Regions from separate parts of the Homo sapiens genome. Here region 2 is linked to region 1. The links come from fine-mapping of genetic effects on gene expression. Tissue or cell type: whole blood. Region 1 holds a variant in brackets; the other region holds the start of a gene. All regions are shown on one strand. Distances are between the middles of the regions.

Region 1 (8,065 bases):
CAGTGAAGGAGATCTGAACGTCTGCGGCAGGAGCACAGAGATATGAATATGCATAAACTCTAAGTGGCTGATCGAATCATCACAGAGGGTCATGAGAATTTGCAGCAAAATAATGAGAAGAATTAATCACTGCAGATTCACAAGGCACTTAGGACGCGAGTGCGCTTTTCATGTATGTGCTAGAGCTAAACTGAAGAGGGAACTGGCTTTCAGCCAAGTATGAATTGATTCACATTCTTCAAAATTGAGGTTATCCCTATAAATAAGGAAAAACTTAACTTTATTTCCAATAACATGTCAATTACTGTGATGGCTTTAGAAATCAAGCTACCTAATATTGAAGTCAACAGATACATAAATTCACAGGGCTGGAAGTGCTTCCAAGAGCATCCACATGTGCACATTTCACTAGAATGTTACATAGAACTACAAGGCCCCATAAGTGAGTTATAACTTCATACAAACAAGCACTTTTATACTACAAAAGTTATTATTAAATGTGTCAATTTGCATAAAAATTGCCTTTTTGCCCGTCTGGTAATAAATCACTTTAAAAACAGGCTTAAGAAAGTGATGCTACATAAAATTAAGTAAGTCACTACTAATTTTATTACCTAAATAGTACTGAATACTTTATTAAGCACTTTTAAACATAGTTGTACCAGATGAATTAAGGATGTACATACAGTATTTTTTTATCTGAAAGGCATGCAATTAACTCCATTACAACTGAAATATAACAAATAATCTTTGGATAATGCTACATTACTTGGTCGTTCAATCTCTGATTACACATTACAGACAATAAAATCAAGTATTTTCTACCCCCTGAGCATATTATAGAGGATACAATACAAACGGGTTGTTTTACATACTTCATGACAAACATTAATATTTAATATATATTACTAAGTGATTAATGACTAATTTTAATGAGTCCTTTGCGTTTGAAACCCAGCATGACAAATGTAGACATTAATATACTTGTTTTAAAAGTATGTGGCTATTTGCAATAACACTAGGCTTTGCACACACACACAAACAATAAAATATGTGGCCATGGACTTTGAAATTGCTGAGTTCCTAAATATAATGAACATTAACCAAATACTAGTAAGGCTTATGAGAGGTCAAATAAAAGTTCTAAGGTAAGAGCCTTGGGTGTCACAGATAAAATCTCCTCCACTTAAGATGCAAAACATTTCCAAAAAGATGAGAAATATGTATGTATATAACACATTGGCTGGGATTTTAAAAAATTGATCATTTCACTCTATTCATTAAATATCAATCCCATATATAAACTTTTTAAGGTATAGATGTTTCTAATCCATCTTTAGACCACTGCATTCCATATATATATAATGTACAAAAATACATTTTAAGTATTGGTTGGTAAATATCTCAAGGCAGTACTAATGTTCTTCACAGAATTAGTTTAATTTGAATGGTTAAGCTATTCTCTTAAAAATACCTTATCTATAGATGTTAAACATATTGTAGTTTTGAATCTCTAGCACAATACCTAAAATAGCATAGGTACTTAAACCGCCTTTGTTAAACTCAATTACCCTTAGCAAGGAAATACCTACAGGGTAAGGTGGGCTTACATGAAATTGCTGGTTTCTTTTTGCTTATGTACATCTCTTTAGGGGCAAGCTCTTTTAAGACTTCATTAAGGGACAAGCAGTAGGCAAAACTAATAGGTTTTAGAATAGGAAAAAATATTTGTTAACAAACTGATGTCAAATGATTTCATTTGTTTCAATGATTTCACTGTTTGCACCATGAAACAAGCAATGTCTAGGCAGATCCACGATTATGAAGTATAAACAGATTTCTCTGCAGCCAACTGAATTTGGTGGTCCTCCTGCTTCCCCATGTGGCCGGTGCTCTGTTGCAGTAAAAGAAGCCTGCCTCTCTCATTTTACCACTAGCCTTTCCTTTCCCCCAGACTTTAACTGCCACATTCAGTCCTTTACCTTCCTTTTCTTCCTTAGCCATTCATTCTCTTGCTTTCCACCTCAAACACTAATCTTTCAGTGTTTGGCAGCAGTTAATCTGAATGATACTGATAATACCTAAACTTAAGGCAAAATTTCAGGGACTTCGATTGCACAGTTGAAACAACCGTAACCACAAAAGACTATAAATATGTTCTAATTCAAATAAACATTCAGTAAATACACACGCTAATGTGGATCTTACATATCACTGACATTTACCCAAGGGCACCTGTTAAAACTATTGTCACTGGCCAGGCTCGCACCTGTAATCCCAGCACTCTGAAAGAGGCGTAGGCAGGAAGACTGCTTGAGGTCAGGAGTTTGAGACCAGCCTGGGCAATGTAGTAAGACCCCTGTCTCTATTAAGAAAAAAATCGTTGCCACATATTCAGAACTTCTGTAGGTACCATGGAAGACACAAAGATGAGGAGGACTATTGTTGCTGAACAATAGGAACTATTTAGGTAGGAATAAAATCATTTAGTTGGCAGAATCTAAGCCCAATGGCTCAAATCTCCATAAAGATGGAAGAAAAAAACTTTCTGCACTAACCGATAGAAGAATGCAGGGCTGGATTAAGGCAGGTCTCACGGATATTGTGCTAACAGGGTCTTTAAAATAGACTGGAGAGAATGCAGGCAAAGGGAAACATGAGATACTATTTTATTTTTTATTATGGTTGGGCAGTTTTTAAGGCAAAATATTGAAAATAAATGATCTTCAATAGAATATTTAAATTACTTCCTTACATAACATGCTGCCACCTGGTGGCATGATAAAAATTAGGTAAGACCAGTATTTTGGACAGTTTAAATATCTTGAACAGATGCTACAGAGCAGGGTATCTTGTAAACAAGCGACTTTTAGTTTTCTCTTAGAACTGAGAAATATGAGGTAGCTAAAATGTGGCTTTTCTTCTCAACTGCTAAAAGTCAATGCTATGAACATTACAGTTATCCATTTGCCTAAGTTAATAATAATCAATATATACTAAGTATTTACTATGGGACAGTCACTATACTGATTTACAAAGGTTTTCACTATTTCTTAAAAGAAATTCTAAGTATGTAAACAAATAAGAAAATTAATGTTAACTTTATTTTGCTTTCAAGAAAATCTGTATTTGTGGGATGAAGTTAGACCTTTAAAATGAACAGAATTACTGAGGGCTCTAGAACCAGGCTCTCCAGGATCAAACCCCAGTACCACTTCTTACCAGCTGTGTTGCTCTGGAACCAGTGCTTAGCCTCTCTGTAAAATGAGGATGATAACGTGGGAAATATGTGCTTTTTTAATGTTCAATTATAACTGCAACATACAAAACAAATGAAAATTCCTTTGACTTGTATTAAAGATAAATGATCCTAATAAAGGAAAGATAAATGTAGCCCACTTCATAGGATTGCTAGGAAGGTTAATGTAAAGCACTGAAAACCGTGCTTGACATGTAGTAAGCACCCAATAGGTGTGTCAGCTGTTGGCATGAACGTCTGGATGCAAAGACACATGGGGAACAACAGGAGAAGGGAGTACTGGTGCTAAATGTGTATGTGCCCTGCAGACACTCCAAAGT[C/T]AAGGAGAGAAATGGTGATCAATGCTCTATAGTCAATTCATATATCTTGATTAAATAGAGCTAAACCTTAAAAAAGTGAATTGGCAACATATAATGTGCACAATGAGCCCCCCAAAATAAAATATATTTAATAAGACTTAGATATTGGGCAAAGATAGGAGAGTCCTGTGAAAAGCACAGCAGACTAGAATTTCATATTAGGGAGTTTAAGAAACTTCTTCAAATTCTGTGATTCTATCTGATTTCGGGTCAGTGAAGAAAAACTCGTATATCATCCAATAGTGGCTTTTAAACTGTATTTCAAGGCAATTCTGCAGGGGCCACCTTTTGGAATGAGATGGAGTAGGGACAGCCCTGTGGAGGGAGAACCTCTGCCTCTTCCCCGCCTCTTTCTATAGCATCACCAGTTCCAAAGTAGAGCTGTTGTGGTGTTACTTCTCTCATACAGTTTCTCTGTGTTTCACTAGAAGGAAAAGGGCCATTGCTAAATCTACAATCTATAATTTTCTCATTTTGTAGATATGACTGAGCTGCAAAAGGAGAAACGACTTGCCCAAGACCACACATAATTACAGCAGACGCAGGATTAGAATCTAATAGTCTTCTCACTACATATATCTTTCCTTTATTAGGATCAGCTATCTTTAATACAAGTCAAAGGAATTTTCATTTGTTTTATGTTGCAGTTAAAAATGAACATAAAAAGCATATACTTCCTACATCCTTTAAAACCCTTTTAGCTAGAAATTATATTGGATTTCTAGGATTATTTTTGGAAGTATATAAAATTTGTATTATTTACATCTTTTGTCTCTTTCCTACCCTTTACAAAAATTAGTATCACCAGTATCAATGCTAATTAAAGGAAAGTAGGGAGCCTAAACACATCTTAATTTTAGCAGGAAACTGAAGAGGGGAAGAAACTAGAACTATTTGATTAGAAAGGTTTGGGGAATATGGCATTTAAGAATTTCCTGTTCCTAGAAAACCAAACACTGCATATTCTCACTCATAAGTGGGAGTTGAACAATAAGAACACATGGACACAGGGAGGGGAACATCACACACTGGGACCTGTAGGGAGGTTGGGGAAAAGGGGAGGGAGAGCATTAGGACAAATACCTAATGCATGTGGGGCTTAAAACCTAGATGACAGGTTGATAGGTGCAGCAAACCACTATGGCACATGTATACCTATGGAACAAACCTGTATGTTCAGCACATGTATCCCAGAACTTAAAAAAAAATAGTTGTTTATTTTAGGGTTTGTTGCTGCAGCATAACATAGCAACAGCTGCGCAATGCAGATTAATAATTGGTTTTCTATGTAAACTTAATAGTTTTAAAAATCATAAATATTGCAGCATTTTACTCTTCAGTACTGAGTATACTGAACCAATGACTGACGTTTTGTAATTCAAGTGGATTTAAACTTAGCTCATAAAGAAAAATTTTACTCCAAGTTATTCTTAGAATGCTTATTTATATTCAAAAGTAAATATTAAAATGTTTTCAATTAAAAAAAGAATTTCCTGTTCCTACTTTCTGTCAGAGGTAACACAAAAATGTTTAATTCCTTAGCAATTTAGTTCTTCCATTTAATAAGCATTTCCTGAGTGCTTGATTTGTACCAGGCACTGAGGACACTCAGATAAATATGAATACCTTACATCTCAAGGATGTGGTATATAGGATAGATATGCATCCAATATGCGAACATAGAAGAAAAACCTTCAGTTGCTTAGATGAATAAGGTAGCATGACCACTTCTGAGAGAGAAAAGCCCTGCAAGTGAAGGCCTGAAAGACAGGTAAGCTCCCACTCATATATTAGGAAAACTGAGGGGAAGAAGGGCATTCTGGACAGAGGAGCAGATTTTAAGTTCAATTCTGTTGGAAGCTGAGGACGGCCAGGAACGTGAGATAAAGTTAGAGATGTGGCCCTATAGGCAGAGGAACCCTGAAAAGGTAGGAAGCAGGGGAGGGACAAAATCAGAGGAGAGTTTAGAGAATGAATCACAAGGGGGCGATACTGGCCACAGGGAGACTGAGGAGTCCAGAGCAATGACCCAAGAAAGAAAGGTCAGATGGTGGCAACGAGAATGAATGGCAAAGCTCAAACCTAATATCTGTTGTGAAGAAATTAACAGGACTTTAAGTGACAGAGTAAAATGGTGATATGTTTATGGATGACTCCGCTTTTGGTTTAAGTGATGAGATAAAAGGGTATACCATGAATTGAGATAAATTAAAAAGGAAGAAAATCAGTTTTCAAGGAAGGAATGAAAAATTTCTTTTAGACACGTGGAATTCTAATACATCGTACAAGTGGGAAACTCTTGGTAGATGGCGATCTATATAATTGTGCACTTATATGGGAATATAAGCTACAGATAAATGTGAGTGTGTAAGTATATGACATGCATTTATTAGCATAATTTTCTTGGGTAATGTTTAGCCACCCTGGTTTAGAAGTACAGAAAATGGATGCAACTTTCAAAGTCAGAGTTTGGATCATCTATGAAGTTCCGGGGATGATGGCCAAATTAGAGGTGAAGAAGCTGATGCTAGTCAGCCAAGTCTACCAAAATGTGGAGGAGAGTGGTAAATATTTATTAAACTAAGCTATCCTCAAGGGATACTGGAAAACTGCTGAGGAAGGCCAGGTCAGATTTCCACTGAAGTCTTGTGGTATGCATCCATGGGCTTAACACTCAGAATAGATTTAAGGGGGAAACAAAGCCTTCAGTTTACAACCTCATTACAGCTACATAAAAATACTCATTCCACCAGTTACAACAAAGCCCAAGACAAGATGGTCCCTCAATGCAAATAAAGTCTACAGACTTTCAAGTACTGAGACAGAATGCAGGTATTAGCAAGGGGACTTGAAACTGGTAGTCTTCCTAGTTACTAATGTCTTAGTAAGTCATGTGTTCTCTCTGGACATAGAAATTCATCTATCCTGTCAGTTTAGGTGGCTTGGTGGGTTACTGCAATCTGTCTTAGGGTTAGCTGGTTGTATTTTCAGCTATAGTCTTGGTGGTATCTAGTACTTCAGTAGCATAAATACTTCAGCAGCATAAGCATAAGGCTTCTGGGAAGGGTGGGGGTTTACCTAGCCTGCCATTATGACATGAACATCTCTCCACCTAAAAAGGCCTTTTCAAACCACAAAGATTCCAGGCAGCTACTGAAGGAAGAAGCACCTGATGAGAGGCCAATTTGCTTGTCTGGATTTTTTTTTTTTTTTTTTTTTTTTGAGACACAGGGTCTCCCTTTGTTGCCCCGGCTGGAGTGCAGTGGCATGATCTCAGCTCACTGAAGCCTTGCCCTCCTGAGCTCAAGTGATCCTCCTACCTCATAGCTGGGAGTACAGCAGGCGTGTCCCACCATGCCTGGCTAATTTTTTATTTTTTTGTAGAGATGAGGTTTTGCCATGCGGGCCAGGCTGGTCTCAAACTCCTGGCCTCAAGTGATCTGCCCACCTTGGCCTCCCTAAGTGTTGGGAGTATAGGTGTGAGCTACCATACCCAGCCTCACCTGGATTTTCTAAAATCTCATGTTTTAAAATGCTTGGGCAAAGATAAGGTTTAGGACAGAATTCTACCTACATGTAACAAATGGGACCAAAGCATAACCAGAATGAAAGACTGAAGGAAGAAGAACATGGTTGAAGCAAATACATACTTACTCATCCAAACTTTTGTTATCTACCATGTGGGGGTTGCAGAAATGAAAAGAGTCTGTGTCTTTAAAGAACTCAATCCTTTTGGTGGGCCGACATGACAAACAAGTGCAATGATATCATACTAAGGTGAATTCATGCCCAGGACAACACAGGAATAAGGAGAAGAAGAAGTCTATCAATTCAGATGTTGTGTGTGGTGGCTGGTGGCAGAAGGAAGACATGCTGGTGTCATGGAACACATTCCAGAGGAGGGATCAGACTTAACCATACCCTTGGAGGATCAAGTCGGAAGGAAGGGCATTTCAAGTGCAGAGAATACTTTTTTGTGGAGAAGGGGAGAGAACACTGTAAAGCTGATCGACTCCTAGTTTACTATGGAGAGCATATGGTGTGAGGGGTTGGCAATCAAAGCATCCTGCATGCCAAGCTAAGGAGTTTGATGCTGAAGCTGTGGGGAACCACTGCATGGTTAATAAAACTGGAGAGAGACATTCAACCTTCATTTTTAGAAAGATCCCAGAGGTCACAGTGTAAGGGACTGAAAAATGAAGACAGGAAGTCCAATTAGGATACAATTATGACAGAAGACAATTTGGAGAGATATTTAATAGGCAGAAACAATAACAGGTGAAAAGTGATACGTATTAACTGAATAAATCAATGTCAAGGGGTAAGAGAAAGAACACTATAGAATAGAGGATCTGTAGACTAGAATAGAGAAGGGCTATCAGTTCAGCTGGATGTGTTAAATCGGAAGGGTGTGAAGATCACTCAGCACAACTGTCTAGGCAGCAGC
Region 2 (8,065 bases), 95 kb after region 1:
CTTTGCAACTAATTTGAACTATATTATGATCAGCAAGCCCCTACGCCAATCAGGAGGATGGGAATTAGAAGTAAGCTTGAGTAGTTAATTTTTTAAGGTGATAACTTATTAATAATTATTTTCATATCATGAGAATTTTTCTTCCCTACATAACCTTGTAATTTCAAAAGCTCAGAAAATGAACTCTCAGGTAATAGGGACTCCATTTTATGTTATTAGCTCCCAAGTCTCTATCCCAGATTACTCTCTCCTGAGCCAGAAATAAACTTTCAACTACATACCAGACATTCCCCCATGCCCACTCTGGCGGTGCCTACTCATCATTCTAATTTCAGCTGAAACATCACCTAGTGCCTCCCCTCAAGGATCCATCCACTTAACTATTAAATAAATCTGACACTCAATGGTGTACCCTGGCATCTAAGACAAAGGCAAAGACCTTCCTAACTAAAAAGATAATTTAAAATGCAAGTGGGGCTGAGAGCTGTGGCTTGTGCTTGTAATCTGGCACTTTGGGAGGCTGAAGTGGGAGGATGGCTTAAGCCCAGGAGTTTGAGACCAGCCTGAGCAACACAGTGAGAGCCCATCTCTACAAAAATTTAAAAATTAGCCAGGCATGGTGGCATGTGCCTGTGTTCCCAGCTACTTGGAAGACTTAGGTGGGAGGATTGCTTAGGCCCAGGAGACTGAAGCTGTAGTGAGTGAGCCGTGATAGTGCCACTGCACTCCTGCCTGGGCAACAGAGATCATGTCTCAATAGATAGATAAATAATATAAGTAAAATAAAATAAAATGGAAGTGGTGGGTATATACATAAGAGTGAAAAATAAAAAATAAAATGTAAGTGGGACTGGGACTGAAGAGAAGGGAAACAGAATGAGGGAAGAGAGGAGGGGACCAGCATAAAATGCAACAGGGAGTGGTAGGATTTGTTAAACTCTCAAAAGAATGGATAAAAAGGAGTTGGCCAGGTGACAAAAATTTTTGACATAACTTTTTTTGATAGGGAAGAACAAGAAGGAGTGCTTCAGATATTAGCAGAAATAAGAACACAACCAAACCTGTGCCTTTGTTTACCTTGCTGAGCGTTGAGCAGCAGGGAGGGTTAGTGATAAGGTTAAAATGGTTGGCAGATGCTAGAATTTCAGAAGAAAAATTACTATAGATTCGTATTTTTTCTCTCCATGCTTGATAATTAACTGCTTATTAAAAACCACTTTCCACTTTACATCTAGATTTAAATGACACATTTTACTAAATGATTCAGAAACAAGACAGGAACAAGGAAAAAATTTAAAGCTACATTTTAACTGCATTTAGTCTTACAGTAAGAAAACAGCTCAATAGTATCATCATGATCATGTAAAAGTTTTTAAAACCTCTTCTATTAAAGAGGGAATTCTGAAAAGGAAAAATGTGCATTGTTCCTTTCCTTTGAGAAATCAAAGTACTTTCACATTTATCCTCATTTTATCCCACATACTGAGAGAAGGTTATAGGTTACGGAAACAGGGAAACAGAAAAATTAGGTGATTTCCTTCATTCTAAGATGCATGTTTTTGACCCTGACTTTTTAAAAAATCAAAGTGGATCTCACATTACTGATTTTAAAGTCATCTTTTCTAGGGGAGGGCCACACTGAGTGTATCTTACAACTATGGGTACACTCTGCATTAAAGAAATATGGTAAAGGATTTTGCCCAAATTAGTAAGCAAGAAGGTGGCAGAACTGGGCAACAACAACAACAACAACGACACCACTTCTGTTAAGTTATTAATATATACAAACAGGAATATAGTAGCCTGTTTGGCTCCTCTCTTATTAGTTAAATATACAGGGCCTACCTTCTACTACGCTCTTCCTGAAAGAAATACAGAGCCATACAAAACATCTTTTCTGACTTCAAGAAGTATATAATAGGTACCTACATAATAGAGGTGCCTATACAAGTATCTATACAACAGAAAAGTCTGGGATCAATATCAGAAGAATGACACAAAGTGAGAAACATAAATTCAGAAACGGAGTAGTCACTTTCAGCCAGGATACTGTGAAAATCTTCACACAATAAGAGCTTAATATATGTTGACTGTGAAGGCATTACGGAAAACTCAGATAAGACTTTGAAGGACTGATGGATCTTCCACAGGGAGAGATTGTGCCGGAAAGCACTCTAAGAATAGAGACTAGCAGTGCCCAGGAAAAAAACACCAAAATCAGTCACTGGGACTCAATGGCAGAAGCAAGGTGGGGAATAGCGGGAAAGAAGGCGAGAAATGTAGATAGGGGCTAAAATATAGAGTTCACTGAAGGTCAAACTAAAAATTGTGAGCAAACAGGAGTAGCCTTTTGACATTCATGCTTCAGGATGACTAAACTGACAGTAAACTACACTGGCTGAACTGGAGTAGGGAGAAGTACTGCTGCAGACTATAACAGTGTCAAGAATTCTGTTCCTGAACTAGGTCGTATCAGCAGCAATGACAAGAAAGAAGTGTCTTCCCTTTGAATTGCGTGGGGACTGCTTTTGGATAAGAGCAAATTCCAAGAGAACAGAGCATTAACTTGTTAGGATTTGTAGCCCCACTACTCCATGCACAATACTTTATTTATCCACAGTACAGCCTCAAATAAAAAACTGAAAAAAGGCAACCAGCAAAGTCTGATTTGAATTTTCACCACTAATGAGATAGCCAAATGCCACAGTCACAAGCTTCTATTTCTCAAACCCACTCATATTACAGTTAATGTGGCATTCCTCTCCAATCTTGTTTTTACAGCCTAAATGAAATTTTGCCAGAAGACTTTAGAATTCTCCTTCTTCCAAATACACCACAGCATTTTTCTTTTAAAGTTTACAAATCCAATTTCCACACACACACACACGCACGCACGCATCAGAAAACCTTGCTGAAAACTCATGTATCTAGCAGAAATTTTTTCTTTCAGGCAGCAATAAATATGCTTTTTTTTTTTTTTTTTTTTTTTTTTTGCAAACTCCACCTTCCGGGCTCAAGTGATCCTCCCGCCTCAGCCTCCCAAGTGGCTGGGATTACAGGCGCCTGCCACGACGCCCGGCTAACTTTTGTACTTTTAGTAGAGACGGGGTTTCACCACGTTGGCCAAGCAGGTCTCGAACTCCTGATCTCAGGTGATCCCCCACCTCGGCCTCCGAAAGTGCTGGGATTACAGGTGTGAGCCACCGCGTCCGGCCAACATGCTTCTTTAGTTACTTATAGAACCTGCCACATCATTAGTTCAACTACAAACTGCTGCTTACATGACCGAAGTTGTGCAAAGGGTCCAAAGTTGTGCAAGAGTAACCACTGAAATCAGACTCTGGTATATTAATAGTTGCAACATCTAAACAATCTTTATGTTTATTATTAGATTCAAAGTAATGCCAAATCACAGGTATTAAAAATATCTACGAAGAGTCTGTTTACTTTTCTGTGAAATATACTAGGACGTCATTTTAAGTGAGAATAACTGAATTTCTTTCAGCTCATGGACATGAGCTCACCTGAAAATTAGCAGTTGTGACACCGGACTTGACATATCTAAAACATCAGCGTCCTCAACATACACATACCTAAGTACACACCCAGAGCACTGAACGACTTTACATTACTATATAACCCCAGTTCACACGTGGCAAAAGTCCACAGAACTCGTTCATGCTTTCCTAACCCCGAAAGGGATTCTCCAGCCGTCAAGTAATGAGATGTGACTTATTCTGACGTGAGAGTTGAAGGTGTTAAAAAAGCATATTTTATATATATGTATATATATAAAATACATATTTTAAAGGTTTCCTTTTCTCTTTCTCGGCTGCCTGTCCCACGCCAAAAAGCGCCTTGCCCAGGCCTTGATAGATGCGTGCTGGTGGAGGAAGGTTGGACTGGTCAGGAACCAAGACCCGGGCCCCAACACCTTCTGCTCCCCTAGGTTTCCCTCCTTCTTTTTCCTGGGGCCGCGAAGAGACCTAACGCAAGGGGCCCTGGGGGTGGGGTGCAGTCATGTGAGTCGGGCCCCGGCGGCCCTGCGCTAGGCCTCCCCTCCTGTCACACACTTCCTGAATCGGGCGTCGCAAACGGCTGCCACGGCCCTCAGCTGCAAGACTGGCCGGGTCGGGGGCCGCAGACCGGGCCTGGCCAGGCCGCGGCCGCTCGCAGTGCCCACGTCACCAGCTCCAGCACTGCGGAAATGGAGCGGCGCGGCCAGGAGGGAGGCGCCGGGTGGAGTCCGCGTCCCCGCCACCGCCAGACGCCGTTTGCCCCTCAGCCCGGGTCCGGAGGCCGCCGACACCCGCCCGGCCGCGCCCGGGGCCCTCACCTGTGTCGCCGATTATGATGTACTTGAAGAGATAGGCGTACGCCATGGCCGCGGCCGCTCAGTGCCAGGGCACACGGCTCCTCCTCCCGCTGCTGCTCCTCCTCCGCGCCCCAACCCCGGTGCCGCTCAGCCTCGAAACGCCAGGCGCCGCCCGCCGCCGCCGCTGCTGCTGTCAGCCGCCGGGAGTGAGGGGCTGTGAGGAAGCCGGACGAACTGACACCCGCAGAGCCGAGGGAGACAGCGCCCGACCGAGCCCAGCCGAACAATAACAGCCGCCGCGGCGCCTCCGCCCCGCCTCCGCGCCGACCCGGAAGTTCTGCGGCCGCCGGCGCCGCCGGAGGAAAGGGGAGGAGCCCCGCACGCTGGCCCAGCCCTGCACGCTGGCCGCGCCCCGCCAGCCGGAGCCCCGCCCCGCCCCGCCCCGCGCCTGCCTTGCCCGGTCCGCCCTGTCTTCCAGCAGGGCGGGGCCCGGCTCCGGTTGTTCCGCCACGTTTGAGCGGGCGAGCCCGGCGGCCGGGAGACGCCAGGGAACGGGGCTGGTGGGGGTACAAAGGCTCGGTTCCGTCGCCTTCAGCCCTGCGGTGGGGGCACGGGGCAAGTGAGGGGACGGCAGAGGCGGCGTTCGGTGTGAGGCTGCGCCCTGGGCTCCTGAAAATGTGTGTGAAAATGTGGGAGGCACACGGCGAGGGGGTGGGGGTGGCCTGGTATTTCTGTGTTTGGCATCGGGGCTTGAAGGTGAAAATGGCAGTATTTATAAATTGGAAACCGTAAATCTGGGACTGCAAAGTAAATCATGGTATGCACGCACAGTGGAGTACTACGTTGCTCTCACCTGAGGTCAGGAGTTCGAGACCAGCCTGGCCAACATGGCGAAACCGCGTCTCTACTAAAAATACATTAGCCGGGCGTGGTGGTGCTCGCCTGTAATCCCAGCTACTCGGAGTCTAAGGCAGGAGAATCACTTGAACCTGGGAGGTGGAGGTTGTAGTGAGCCGAGATTGAACCACGGCACTCCAGACTGGGCGACAGAGCGGGACTCCGTCTCAAAATAATAATAGTAAATAAAAAATAAATAAAGTCTCTGAACCTGTCCTGGTTCTGAGGGCTGCTCTAAAAAAAAAAAAAAAAAAAAAGCCTGACTTAGGTTAAGCAAAACCGAGATGATCTGTTTATGTGTGTGTATATAACATGCACCATATGTAATATATGAATTGTATATAATTTTTATGTGTAACAAATAGTGGGAAAACATTTACATACCCATATATGCATAATCAATCTGAAAGGAAAGCTAACTGGTATTAAGAGAAAGGAGGGAATGGGATTGGGGGGAAAATGTACTTTTCCCTGAATTTTTTTGTGCAGTTTGACATTTTTTGCAGTGTTCATGAGTTACCTATTAGGAAATACTGTTAAAGGAAAAAACAAAATGACTGTGCATTCAAAGAATAGTTATTGAATACTATGTTTCATGTACCGCCAGGCACAGCAACTGGAGGCCCTGTATGTTCTATGTTCTGTTTTTCTACTTTGCTTTTTCAGTCATCCAGCCCAAAATGTCACCACTCTGTTCAAAAAGACCACAGGTTATGGAAGAGGAGGTGGAGAATAGGGTGTCAGGAAAGGTTACTTAGAGATTATGATTTCTGAGCCAGGAATATGAATTATGTATAGAGTTTGTCGAAAGAACAACAGTTTGGGGAGGGGAACCAAAGTTTATGGACAAGGAACAGAATGTGCAAAATTCCTGGATCTGTTCAGGGAATTTGAAGTTGCATAAGGAAGCTAATTGACTAACTCATATCCTCATAACCCATAACCTCATATTGAAGGAGAATCATTGCTGGGGAAAAGCGATTGGGATTTAGTGGCCCTCGTTCCTGTTGCCTAATACTCTTCTCTTTGGGGCCTCTCATTATGTAATTAGTACTGACACCATCATGCTGGGTTGCTAACATGCTTTGGATGGCCTTGCCAAATATGAACTCACAAGGTTTTTCTGGAATATTTGGAGGGGATTTTACTAAAGGGTCAGAGATGGCACGGAAGAATTTGACATGAAAATTTGACATGAAAAGCTACCTGGAATCGCAAAATTTGGTTCATTCACCTTTAGTTTGAGGAAGGGGAGGTCCCTGCCCAAGGCCTCCAGTTTTCAGATGTCATTTTGTCCCTCCCACTTGAGTGCCTTCACCCAAGTCTTCCTTGGTGATGGAGAAACTCAAGTCTTCACTCTCACAAGATAGAGGGATGTGGCCTTCCTTCACCAGCACAACTCTATTAGGATGTTATACAAATGCCTGGCATCCTAGGAGTCAGGAGTATTCCTACACTGTTAGAGGAGGAGAGTACCTGGAGAGGTCTCTTGTGCCAGGTTATGTAGGGCCTTGTATGTTATGTCACCATGCATTTAGAACTTTACTTAGTAGACAAAGGAAATTGTGACAGGAAATGGTCAGAACTGGGTATGTAACAAAAATCATAGAAATGGATATAAAGCTATAGAGGCAATGTGTTATAAGGAAAATAGGATACCTGGCTTCTGGTCTTGGCTCTACCTGTAACTGATCGGATGAATGTGAGGAATCGTTTGGCCTCTTAAAGCTTCAGAGCACAGGTTGCGATGGCTTGTGCCTGCGGTCCCAGCTACTTGGGAGGCTGAAGAGGGAGGATAGCTTGAGCCAAGCAGTTTGAGGCAGCAGTGAGCTAGGATGGTGCGACTGCACTCCAGCTTGGGCTATAGATTGAGACCTTGTGTCTTAATAAATAAAATAATTATTAAAATAAAAATAATTTAAAAAATTATGAGTGGTTCAGTGCACTTGTCTATTAAGTAAAGGAGTTAAGTGTTTCTTAAAAGGGCTATTCCAAGCATGACGTCTTTTAATTTTATGCTTAGCCAGCCTCCAAATCTAAAGCCATCTGTAAAGAAGGTAGTAATCCTCTCGTGAAAATGCAGGGGCCATAGATGTCAAATGCATATTGTTCTGATTGATTGATTGATTGATTGAGAGGAGGTCTTGCTCTGTCATCTAGGCTGGAGTACAGTGACCCAGTCATGGCTTACTGCTGTCTTGACTTCCTGGGCTCAGGTGATTGTCCTGCCTCAGCCTCCTGAGTAGCTGGGATCACAGGCACATGCCACCACGCCTATATCATTTATTATTATTATTATTATTTGGAGAGATGGAGACTCCCTCTGTTACTCAGGCTGGTCTTGAACTACTGGCCTCAAGCAATTCTCCCACCTTGAAGAACAGGATTTTCAAGTTCTTCTCTGGGCTTCAGTTTCCTTATTTGGAATATGTGGATAATAACTGCTTAACAAAGTCCATTTAGGATCAAATGAGATAATGTATGTGAAAATACTGTGTAAATTATGAAAAATGTATACCTAATACATAAAACTCTTTGCACTGCATAATTTTTGGAAATTACTTGAGGGGCTGAGTGCGGTGGCTCATGCATGTAATTCCAACACTTTGGGAGGCAAAGTCTGGAGGATCCCTTGAGCCTTGGAGTTCAAGAAGATCAGCATGGGTTACATGGTGAGATCCTGTCTCTACAGAAAATTAAAAAGAAAAAAAAGAAATTAACTTGAGGAACTAAAGGCCTAATCACTATATAAATTCATGGTTTAAAATTAAGTTTGTTCCTGGCTCTATTTTATGTCTCTACCTTTTTTCCTATGTATGATTCATAATATTTTGTTATATTTTCTATAAACCT

The links. PIP is the estimated chance that this variant, and not a neighbour inherited with it, causes the effect.
Region 2: it holds the start of RAB2A, and the variant in region 1 is fine-mapped to the expression of RAB2A in whole blood (TOPMed, PIP above 0.99).

The regions. Positions count from the first base shown.
Region 1 is chr8:60,608,736-60,616,800 of GRCh38, reverse strand. All of the region lies in intron 6 of RAB2A (RAB2A, member RAS oncogene family), which reads right to left. Among named protein-coding and RNA genes, the nearest start is that of CHD7, 66 kb to the left of the region's middle. The variant C/T (reference allele first, on the strand shown) is at 3,580.
Region 2 is chr8:60,513,525-60,521,589 of GRCh38, reverse strand. It overlaps RAB2A (RAB2A, member RAS oncogene family), which reads right to left and starts at 4,603. Exons shown (of 8, transcript NM_002865.3): 1 at 4,337-4,603. The coding sequence starts at 4,382. LOC124901949 (a long non-coding RNA gene) reads right to left here. Exons shown (of 3, transcript XR_007060922.1): 3 at 4,792-7,898. RefSeq lists enhancers at 3,170-3,359, 4,595-5,455 and a silencer at 4,150-5,019.